2 separate regions of the Homo sapiens genome follow, and region 2 is linked to region 1. Evidence: fine-mapped expression QTL. A gene starts in region 1. The other region holds a variant in brackets. All regions are shown on one strand. Distances are from middle to middle. Region 1 holds the start of TMEM254 (transmembrane protein 254). Region 2 has its middle 15 kb from the start of PLAC9.

Evidence for each region. PIP is the estimated chance that this variant, and not a neighbour inherited with it, causes the effect. A credible set is the group of variants that fine-mapping cannot tell apart.
Region 2: its variant is the best candidate, but not a certain one, in a credible set for the expression of TMEM254 in whole blood (TOPMed, PIP 0.70).

What each region holds. Positions count from the first base shown.
Region 1 is chr10:80,075,689-80,081,069 of GRCh38, forward strand. TMEM254 (transmembrane protein 254) reads left to right here and starts at 2,977. Exons shown (of 4, transcript NM_025125.4): 1 at 2,977-3,098. The coding sequence starts at 3,012. It overlaps TMEM254-AS1 (TMEM254 antisense RNA 1), which reads right to left and starts at 3,505. Exons shown (of 4, transcript NR_027432.1): 1 at 3,039-3,505.
Region 2 is chr10:80,114,894-80,120,274 of GRCh38, forward strand. No RefSeq gene overlaps it. Among named protein-coding and RNA genes, the nearest start is that of PLAC9, 15 kb to the right of the region's middle. The variant A/G (reference allele first, on the strand shown) is at 2,287.

The DNA of each region.
Region 1 (5,381 bases):
TTTGAGACCAGCCTGGTCAACATGGCGAAACCCCATCTCTACTAAAAATACAAAAAATTAGCTGGGTGTGGTGGCATGTGACTGTAGTCCCAGCTACTAGAGAGAGTGTGGCAGGAGAATCACTTGAACCCAGAAGGCCAAGGTTGCAGTGAGCTGAGATTGCGCCATTGCACTACAATCTGAGCAATAGAGTGAGACTCTGTCTCAAAAAAAAAAAAAAGTTTTGGTATGGTAAAGGCTTGATCAGAACTGTACTTGAAAAAGATGATCCTGTTATTTGTCAGACAGATTCAATAAAGGGACTGCATGTGGGCTGAAGTGGCAGGAAGTAGGAAGGAGTGACTGACTCATGAGACAGTGGAGATGAAGCCATGATTTAATCTAGAAGGATTAGATATTGTATTACCCAATCAGTAGAACTCTTGACAGCTGATTAGTCTGCAATCTTTATATGATATGGGGGAAGTCAAAGCAAGGAATCTGGGTACAAGGTAGAAAGAAAGTGCTGTTCACATAGAGTAGGCCGGGCGAGGTGGCTCATACTTGTAATCCCAACACTTTGGGAGGCCGAGGCAGGCAGATCACCTGAGGTCAGGAGTTCGAGACCAGCCTGGCCAACATGGTGAAACCCCGTCTCCACAATTAGCCAAGCGTGGTGGTGCACACCTGTAATCCAAGCTACTCAGGAGGCTGAGACAGGGGAATCACTTGAAGTGGGGAGGCAGAGGTTGCAGTGAGCCGAGATCGCAACACTGCACTCCAGCCTGGGCAACAAGAGCAAAACTCCATCTCAAAAAAAAAAAAAAAAAAAAAAAAAACCACAGACAGGGTAGCCTTGGTGAGGATGGACTCTGTGGATAATGATAATGGACTTCTTGTCTTTGAGGTGTGAGTAATCTTTGGTAAAGGTGACCAACTGGGAAGAGGTGAGGGCTGAAGAGATTATTTTAGTCAGCTGAAGGTGAAAATTGAATCTGATAGGTACTGAAAACACAAAGAAGATAATAAGCAAAACTTATTCTAGGAGAGAAGAAAGAAAAGGAAAGCTGAGAAAACAAGGAGTTATTCAGAAGGAGGAGAAGAATAAAGAGGGTGGTGTGATCAAGGATGATAAGGACTAAGAAAACACCAATTGTTACAATTGTTACTGTTAATCTTGATATTCAAGAGCACTGTGGTCTACCTGGGAAATGGATTTCCTCACATATTCTGAAATTCATTCTTTAAGACTTTATATCCCAAGATACTCACGTAAAAAATGAGGAAAGAGAACCTTGGTTGGTTCCAGAGTGCCCTCTCTGGAACTGGAACACTCAGCTGCCAATTGTTTTCCAGTATTCCTCACCCACTTGGGCATGACAGGACCCTGTGCTGTTTCTTCTTCTTTGAAATAAGGACAATAGTTTACTGCCTAGGATTGTTTTAAGAATTAAATTAGTTAATTATTGTATAGTACTTAGAACAATGCCTTGAACATAGTAGGTGTTCAATAAATACCAGCTACAGTATAGTAACTTTTTTTTTTTTTTTTTGACGGAGTCTCACTCTATAGCCCAAGCTGAAGTGCAGTGATTGGATCTCGGCTCACTGCAACCTCCGCCTCCGGTGCTCAAGCAATTCTCGTGCCTCAGCCTCCCAAGTAGTTGGGACTATAGACACGCGCCACCACCCCCAGCTAATTTTTTGTATTTTAGTAGAGACAGGGTTTCACCATGTTCTCCAGGGTGGTCTCGAACTCCTGAGCGATCCACCCACCTCGGCCTCCAAAAGTGCCAGGATTATAGGCTTGAGCCACTGCGCTTGGCCAGTAACCCATTTTTAAGGCCCAGGTGAAATAGTTTTTCTATTTCTATGATTTTCTATTTCTATGATTAAATAGTGTTTAATCAGACACTTCAGCTGCATATACCTCCCACAGCTCATTGATGATACAACAGTTCGCACAGGGCCTGGCACACATGCTAAAGGCTCAGCAGTATTGATAATCACCCACACTTACAAAGCACTATGGGCCAGACACTGCTGTGCTTTCTTTACAGATATCAACTCATTTAACCCACCCTAAAAACCCTGAGGTTCCCAAAACTGGCATATCCTCATGTTACAGATACAGAAACTAAGACACAGCCGGGCTAAGTAATTAATCTAAGCTTACACAAATAGCCGAGACAGAGCCAGGACTTAAATCCAGGCAGCCTGTTTCACAGTCCCTGCTCATAACCATGGTGCTGTATAGTTCCAAACATCTTAACTAATGAGGACAGCATTATTTCTCAAGGTGCACAGCACAGAGAACTTCAAAAATTAGACTCTTAGTAAAACACCATCTTTTTTTTTTTTTTTTGAGACAGGGTCTTGCTGTGTTGCCCAGGCTGGAGTGCAGTGGCGTGATCTGGGCCCACTGCAACCTGCACCTCTCAGGTTCAAGAGAGTCTTGTCTCAGCCTCTGGAGTTGCTGGGACTACAGGCAGGCACCACCGCGCCCAGCAAATTTTTTGTATTTTTAGTACAGACGGGGTTTCACCATGTTGACCACGCTGGTCTCAAACTCCTGACCTCAAGTGATCTGCCCGACTCGGCCTCCCAAATTGCTGGAATTTATTCCAACACCTCATTCATTCATTCATTCATTCGAGACAGAGTCTAGCTATGTTACCCGGGCTGGTCTCAAACTCCTGGGCTCAAGGGATCTTTCTACCTCAGCCTCCCAACGTGCTGAGATTACAGGGACACGCCACCGCGCCAGCCCGAACATCTTTATCTTAAACCCAGAAAAGTGACAGGAGTGTCTCCCCTACAAGATGATGACCAGCCCTCCAGACCTGAGCCCAGGTGTGATTCCAAGGCCCCTGTACTGGGGCCAGACAGGGAGACTCGCTCTCAGGGACTTCCCAACCAGCACCATCTTCTCCCTGCGGGGATGGCGAGGGAGCGCGGGCCGGCCCCGGCCCTGCCTCCGCGCTCGCGCTCGACGGTGTCCTGAAGCGCGCTCCCGGGGAGGTGTTGCAGCCATGGCTACGGCAGCCGGCGCGACCTACTTTCAGCGAGGCAGTCTGTTCTGGTTCACAGTCATCACCCTCAGCTTTGGCTACTACACAGTAAGGACAGCCGCTGGAGCGCTACGGTCTGACGAACGAGCGAGCGCTCGGTTCACCCCAGGACCTGGGCTCACAGGCCGCGGGCCGGGGGAAGTCGTGCAAGCACAATCCCGACTCCCGCGCGCTAGGAGCGGAGGGGAGGGGACCAGACTCCGCAATGAGAGCAAGCATACTGGTCCGCCAGGGTCTTGGGCGGGCGCCCAGGGCCCTGAGAAACCGGCTAGCCAGGCTTTTCTTATATGGGGGCGGGGACGGCTGGGGAGCTCCCAGCCAACTCTGTGTCTGGGTTTTTCAAGAGGATGGTGAAGTCGGAGGCCAGCAATGCGGCTACCGCCTATTTCCGTCCAGCAAGACCCTTGCCCTCTCTGGTCACAGTCCTGGGGCTGGGCTACTTCGCGGTGAGGCGTGGGGTGGGGCGGGGCGGGCCTCTGTTTTGGCCCGCCGGGCCCTCGTAGGGCGAGGGGAGCTCTGGGAACGGGGCCTGTGCGCACGCGCATCTGACGGTTGTCTCGGTTACTCATGTAAGCGGAAATTCGGTGGGCTCTTAGGATAGTTTCTGCTTTCTAGTGTTCCTGTCTTTGGGTCCTCACCTCTGCATGGTTACTAACGGGTTATCCGAGCCTAAGCCTCTCACGAAGCGGAAAGTCAAGTTAACAGACTGCCATAGGCCTGCCAAGTCAGAATAGGGCTTCCGAAGCAGAATGTTTGAGCCAATAGGAATTGTTTGGAAAACGGGGATAAATCTAAAGGATGGGTAGGATTTAAGTGGTAAGGGAGGATAAAGAGGCTATAACTGTTCTGACATAGGTGTGGAAGCAAGAAGAAAGCTGTACCTAGAAAAAGAGCGACGTTTGTTTGGCTGAGAAATAATCTGTTTAAAGGATAACGAGAAAGATGCGTGGAAAAGTAGGTTGGGGGCTAAGGTGGTAGTTTTGTGTTTTTTTGAGACGGAGTCTCGCTCTGTCACCCAGGCTGGAGTGCAGTGGGGCGATCTCGGCTCACTGCAACCTCTGCTTCCCAGGTTCAAGCGATTCTCATGTCTTTACCTGTAGCTGGGATTACACTATGCCCAGCTATTTTTTTGTGTTTTTAGTAGACATGGGTATTGGTGAGGCTGGCCTCGAACTCCTAACGTCAAGTGATAAGGTGGTAAAATTTTGAAGGAAGGCGAAGCTATTTGGGTATACCAATAGATCCTGGAGATTGGAGATTTGTCTTGTCCACAGTGTTGTTTGTTGGTGTCAAATCTGACAACCTATGTCCTGATTTCCCCATATGTACAATGGAGGTGTTGAACTGAAAATTTTCAAAGGTGCATTTCTGTTCTACGATTTAGTGTCTGTGACTAGTTAGAATATAGTTGGAGGAAAGCTTTGGGGACTTCAAATTGGGATCTTGTGGAGCTGGCAGATGCTCCCCTTTCCCTTTGGTTTGGGAGGATGCAGTGATATTTGTGCATTATTTAACTTTCAGATGTGAAACAACATCGTGAGAGAGGTAGTACTGCTCTTGACAAAGATTTGAATGGGACAATACATTTTGAAACTGTTGAGTTATTCTCAGAAAAGTCTTAGCTGACAGAAGTTACAATACAGAGGCTGAAAGTTAAGATTACGAAAAATTTATGTGATTAAGCAGTTGCTATTAAAATGTCACAACCTTATCTCACTTATTTTCCATCTCTATGCAGTGGATCATTCTCAGTTTTAGCCGTACAAAAAGGGAAAGCCGAGAAAGGAATTCTAAATTAAACAGAGGTTTGGCTGGAGCCAGTTTCTGCAGTAAAGAAACTAGCCAAAGCACATAAACTCAAAATTTGCTAATATCTTTTATAAAATAATGGTTTTGGTGGAATGTATTAATAGGAGTCAGCCAGGCATGGTGGTTCACCCCTGTAATCCCAGCACTTTGGGAGGCCGAGGCGGGCAAATCGCTTGAGCCCAGGAGTTCGAGACCATCCTGGGCAACATGGCAAAACCTCATCTCTACACACACACACACACACAAAATTAGCCATGGGCAGTGGCTCACACCTGTAATCCCAGCACTTTGAGAAGCCGAGAAGGGCGGATCACCTGATGTCAGGAGTTGGAGATCAGCCTGGCCAACATGGTGAAACTCTGTCTGTATTAAAAATACAAAAATTAGCTGGGCGTGGTGGCATGCACCTGTAGTCCCAGCTACTCTGGAGGCTGAGACAGGAGAGTCGTTTGAATCCGCGAGGCGGAGGTTACAGAGAGCCGAGATCGTGCCACTGCACTCCAGCCTAAGCGACAGAGTGAA
Region 2 (5,381 bases), 39 kb after region 1:
AAGAAAAAAGTTATCTTTCATGGTATGTCTACTTTAGAATAATTTCAAAGATCTTTAGGTAACTCAAAACCTTGTACTCATTTAATTGATGGATATCTGCTGGGTACATAAATAATTTCTAGGAAAAATGAAAGACTAAAACATGCATTATGAAGCATAATTTAAGTGTATATACTTTTTTTTTACACTTGTGGGTTTTTCGGGGTTTTTTTTGTCTTTTTTTTTCCTTTTTGTGGAGATCAGGGTTTCACTATATTGCCCAGCCAGGTCTCAAACTCCTGGGCTCAAGCTATCCTCCTGCCTCTGCCTCCCTAAGAGTTGGGATTACAGGCCTGAGCCACCACACCCGGCCTTATTTATTTATATATATTTTTTGAGACAGAGTTTCACTCTTGGTTGCCCAGGCTGGAGTACAATGGCATGATCTCGGCTCACTGCAACCTCCACCTCCCAGGTTCAAGTGATCCTCCTGCCCCCAGCCTCCCAAATAGCTGGGATTACAAGTGCCCGCCACCATGCCTGGCTAATTTTTGTATTTTTCGTAGAGATGGGGTTTCACCATTTTGACCAGGCTGGTCTTGAACTCCTGACCTCAGGTGATCCGCTCACCTCAGCCTCCCAAAGTGTTGGATTACAGGCGTGAGCCACCGCACCCGGCCTTCTGTATTTTAAGGAAAACAAAGAACTGTAGTTTTATCTTAAAGCAGCAGTTTTGTCTTAAAGTACCCAGATTTGGTTTGGGGCAGGGGGTTTGGGAGTTTTTTGTGGTTGGTTTGTTTGGTGAAACCTCTTTACACACCTCCAACATATTGAGGACACCAAAGAGCTTTCTTTGTGGATTATAGCTATTAGTATTTACTGTTAAACATTTAAACATAACTTTCTAAAAAACATTTTTTCATTCCTCTCAGCACATACCTATAAAACATACTTTTTTTTTTTTTTTGAGATGGAATCTCGCTCTGACACCCAGGCTGGAGTGCGGTGGCATGATCTTGGCTCAGTGAACCCAAGACATCCCAGGTTCAAGTGATTCTCGTGCCTCAGCCTCCTGAGTAGCTGGAACTACAGGCACCTGCCACCACATCCACCTAATTTTTATATTTTTAGTAGAGACGGGGTTTCACCATGTTGGCCGGGCTGATCTTGAACTCCTCAGGTAATCCACTCACTTTGGCCTCCCAAAGTGCTGGGATTACAGGCGTGAGCCACCATGCCCAGCTGCTATAAAACATAACTTTTAAGAAAGCTTATTTAATGATTCATTTAAAAATAGCAACAATGAATGAAGTACAATAAATATACCTCAGCAGTATTATGAAATTAGTTCTGACCTCATGGGCCCCTTGAGATTGGTCCTAAAATAAAGGGCGAGTTTACTATAGAATGCAAAAGAGCATGCTGACATGATTTTTTTTTTTTTTAGATGGCGTCTAGCTCTCTTGCCTCGGCTGGAGTACAGTGGCACTATCTTGGCTTACTGCAACCTCTGCCTCTCGTGTTCAAACAATTCTCCTTCCTCAGCCCCCTGAGTAGCTGGAAATACAGGCATGCACCACCATGCCTGGCTAATTTTTGTATTTTTAGTAGAGACAAGGGTTTCGTCATGTTGGCCAGGCTGGTCTTGAACTCCTGATCTCAGGTGATCCACCCACCTTGACCTCCCTAAGTGCTGGGATTACAGGCATGAGCCATGCGCCTGGCCTGAAGTGAATTTTATTTGCTTTGATTTATAATACCTGAGTTTGGGGGCTGGACGCAGTGGCTCACACCTGTAATCCCAGCACTTTGGGAGGCCAAGGCCAGCGAATCATTTGAGCCCAGGAGTTCCCAGTCCAGCCTAGCCAGCATGGGAAAACCTACTAAAAAATACAAAAAGTAGCCAGGTGTGGTGGTGTGTGTCTGTAAGTTCCAAACTATTCGGGAGGCTTAGGTGGGAGGATCACCTGATCCCAAGAGGCGGAGGTTGCAGTGAACAGAGATCGCACCAGTGCACTCCAGCTTGTGCGACAGAGTGAGACCCTGTCTCGATTAAATCTATATTTATATATATAATGTGTGTGTATATATATATACACACACGTAACACATTATATATATAAATAAAATACTTGATTCTGAAATATGTTAGACACTATGAAATGTTATTAAGATCTTATAGGGCCGGGCGCGGTGACTCACGCCTGTAATCCCAACACTTTAGGAGGCGGAGGCGGGCAGATCACGAGGTCAGGAGATTGAGACCATCCTGGCTAACACGGTGAAACCCCGTCTCTACTAAAAAGT[A/G]CAATAAATTAGACGGGCGTGGTGGCAGACGCCTGTAGTCCCAGCTACTCAGGAGGCTGAGGCAGGAGAATGGCGTGAACCCAGGAGGCAGAGCTTGCAGTGAAGCCGAGATCGCGCCACTGCACTCCAACCTGGGCGACAGAGGGAGACTCTGTCTCAAAAAAAAAAAAAAAAAAAAAAATCTTATAAAAGTTTGCTTTTATAAGACCATACGGTTTATCATATAATGTATAATATTTTATAATATATAATGCATATAAAACACATCATATGCATTTTAACACATGAAATTTACTAACAATCTTAAAAAATTTTGTTTAATATTCATGGCCTTGTTTCCCTAGTTTACTGTTTGTTGTCTTCACCTATACTATGAAGGGTTATTCTTTTTTTCTATGTAAATCTACCTAGATAGCAAAGATTCAGTGTTTTACCAGAATTATTTTTTGATTTTCATGTTGATTTTATTATGCCCTTGGTTATTTAAAGAAACAAGATTTGTTATTTAGGAGGGAGCTAAAGTTCTTTATGATCATGTTATTTTCTATCTTTATTTTTATTTATTTTTATTTATTTTCTTTTTTTTTTAGAGACAGAGTTTCACTCCTGTTGCTCAGGCTGGAGTGCAGTCATGTGATCTCTGCTCACTGCAATCTCAGCCTCCTGGATTCAAGTGATTCTCCTGCCTCAGCCTCCCAAGTAGCTGGGATTACAGGTGCCTGCCACCACGCCCAGCTAATTTTTTGTATTTTCAGTAGAGGTGGACTTTCACCATGTTGGTCTCAAACTCCTGACCTCAGCTGATCCATCTGCCTCGGCCTCCCAAAGTGCTGGGATTACAGGAGTGAGCCACTGCACCTGGCCTATTTTTAAATGTTGTATTGTCTCTTACAAATGGGTAGGCAAGTACTACTTCTCAGATGCCTATGATCCTACACTAAGTATTCAAATCTCCTGACAATTTTGTATTTTGCATTCCCAAAATTAGTCCTAAATGTGAAATAAAATAAAATAAAAGGAATGATAGCTGAGCTTTCCCAGACATACCATTGAAAATCACAAAAGATTTGTTACTTCCCCTTATGAAAAGAGAGGTGCCAGAAATAAATAGGTGTATTTGATATGTTACTATTGGTGAATTACACAGGAATAGATGAGATTATTTTTTATCAAAAGAGAGGGAAAGTGTAGGAAAATTTTCTTTCAATGGAAAATTAAGTATTGTCTATAGCACACCCTTTCACTTTATCTGCTTTTGATTCCATGGGAGCCATTTTACAGCTTGTAAAATGTAGATAACTGATAGAAATGAAAACTAATTCTTGGCTCTAGATCTGTACATTTAATCCTGCCAGTAGAGGTTCAATTGACTTCCCTTTCCCACCCTGGAAGAAGCTGGCTTGAGCTCTGTTGGTGAATGTGTTTCAACATTCCTTTGCTCCATATAATTGAGCTTTTCTGACTTCTCCTTTGAATTAGTTATAATCTGCCATTGGAGAGTCATGATTTTATCTTTTTTTTTTTTTTTTGAGATAGCGTCTTGCTCTGTCGCCCAGGCTTGAGTGAAGGGATGCAAGCTTGGCTCACTGAAGCCTTGACCTCCTGGGCTCAAGTGATTCTCCAAACTCAGCCCCCTGAGTAGCTAGAACTACATACATGAGCCACCATGCCTGGCTAATGACGATGATGATGATGATGATGATGATGATGATGATGATGTAGCAGGGGGTTGCACTATATTGCCCAAGCTGGTCTTGAACTCCCAGCCTTAAGCGATCTTCTCACCTCAGTTTCCCAAAATGCTGCTATTATAGGCATGAGCTGCCACTCCAGGCTGATGATTTTATCTTTTTAATAAATGAATCTTTTAACAATAAGGACAATATAAGTTAGTTCATTACAAATGATGGAAGCTTATTGCATTAGAGTTTTATTCTCCTCCTTAATCCTTGTTGCAAATACCTGGAAGGCAGTAACGGAAAGACCATTAGCTGGTATTAACCTTCAACTCTGGAATATGGCACCATCTCCTACCTTGCCCCTGGCAGTTACTTTCCTCCCCTACACTTATGCAGCCTCCTAGCTGGTTGGGGCTATACTATCTTCCCTCCCTACACCAGCAGGTGGGACTGGATCAAGAGTCCTAGGCAGAAAAGAGAGGGAGAGAGAGAGAGAGAAATCAAACTTGTGAAAAGAAGGGGGAAGCTGGGCGCGGTGGCTCACGCCTGTAATCCCAGCACTTTGGGAGGCCAAGTGGGGTGGATCATTTGAGGTTAGGAGTTCAAGACCAGCCTGGCCAACATGGTGAAACCCTGTCTTTACTAAAAATACAGAAATTAGACAGGTGTGGTGGCGCACACCTGTGATCCCAACTACTCGGGAGGCTGAGGCAGGAAAATTGCTTGAACCCAGGAGATAGAGGTGCAGTGAGCTGAGATTGCGCCATTGCACTCCAGCCTGGGCAACAGAGTGAGACTCCGTCTCAAAAAAAAAAAAGAAGAAGAGGGAATAAAAGAAAATTAAACAAGAGTCCCAGTCCTGGAAGGAAAATATCAATCCTAGTCTGGAAGGGAAGAGAAGCGGAGCAGGTTTAGAGGTTAGTCCTATTGTATTCATTTTATGGGGTCGGTGCAGCAGCTGAGTTGACATAAAGATATAAATGAGGCTTAGGGCAAGGAGATGAATATTTTAAGAAACTTTTTATTGATGGATCATGTATATACATTTTAAGAATTAAACACACCCATGAAATCAGCACCCAGACCAAATGACAGAACATTACCAGCAGCTCAGAAGCCCCCCCATTTCTCTTGCAGGAAATTGATACTGAGTTCTTGTGGCATGGATTAATTTTGCTTGGTTTGTACTTTATATCAATTGTATTATACAGCATTTTTTGAGAAAATTTCTTTCATCAATTGTATTTTCATCCATAATGTTGCATGTAGTGGTAGGTCATTCATTCTTTAGTCTGATGTCAATGGGAATTTGAGTAGTTTCCAGCTTAGGACTATTATAATAGTGCAGCTATGATCATTCTTGTTTTTCTTTTCTCTTCCTTCCTTCCTTCCTTCCTCTCTTTCTGTCTTTCTCTT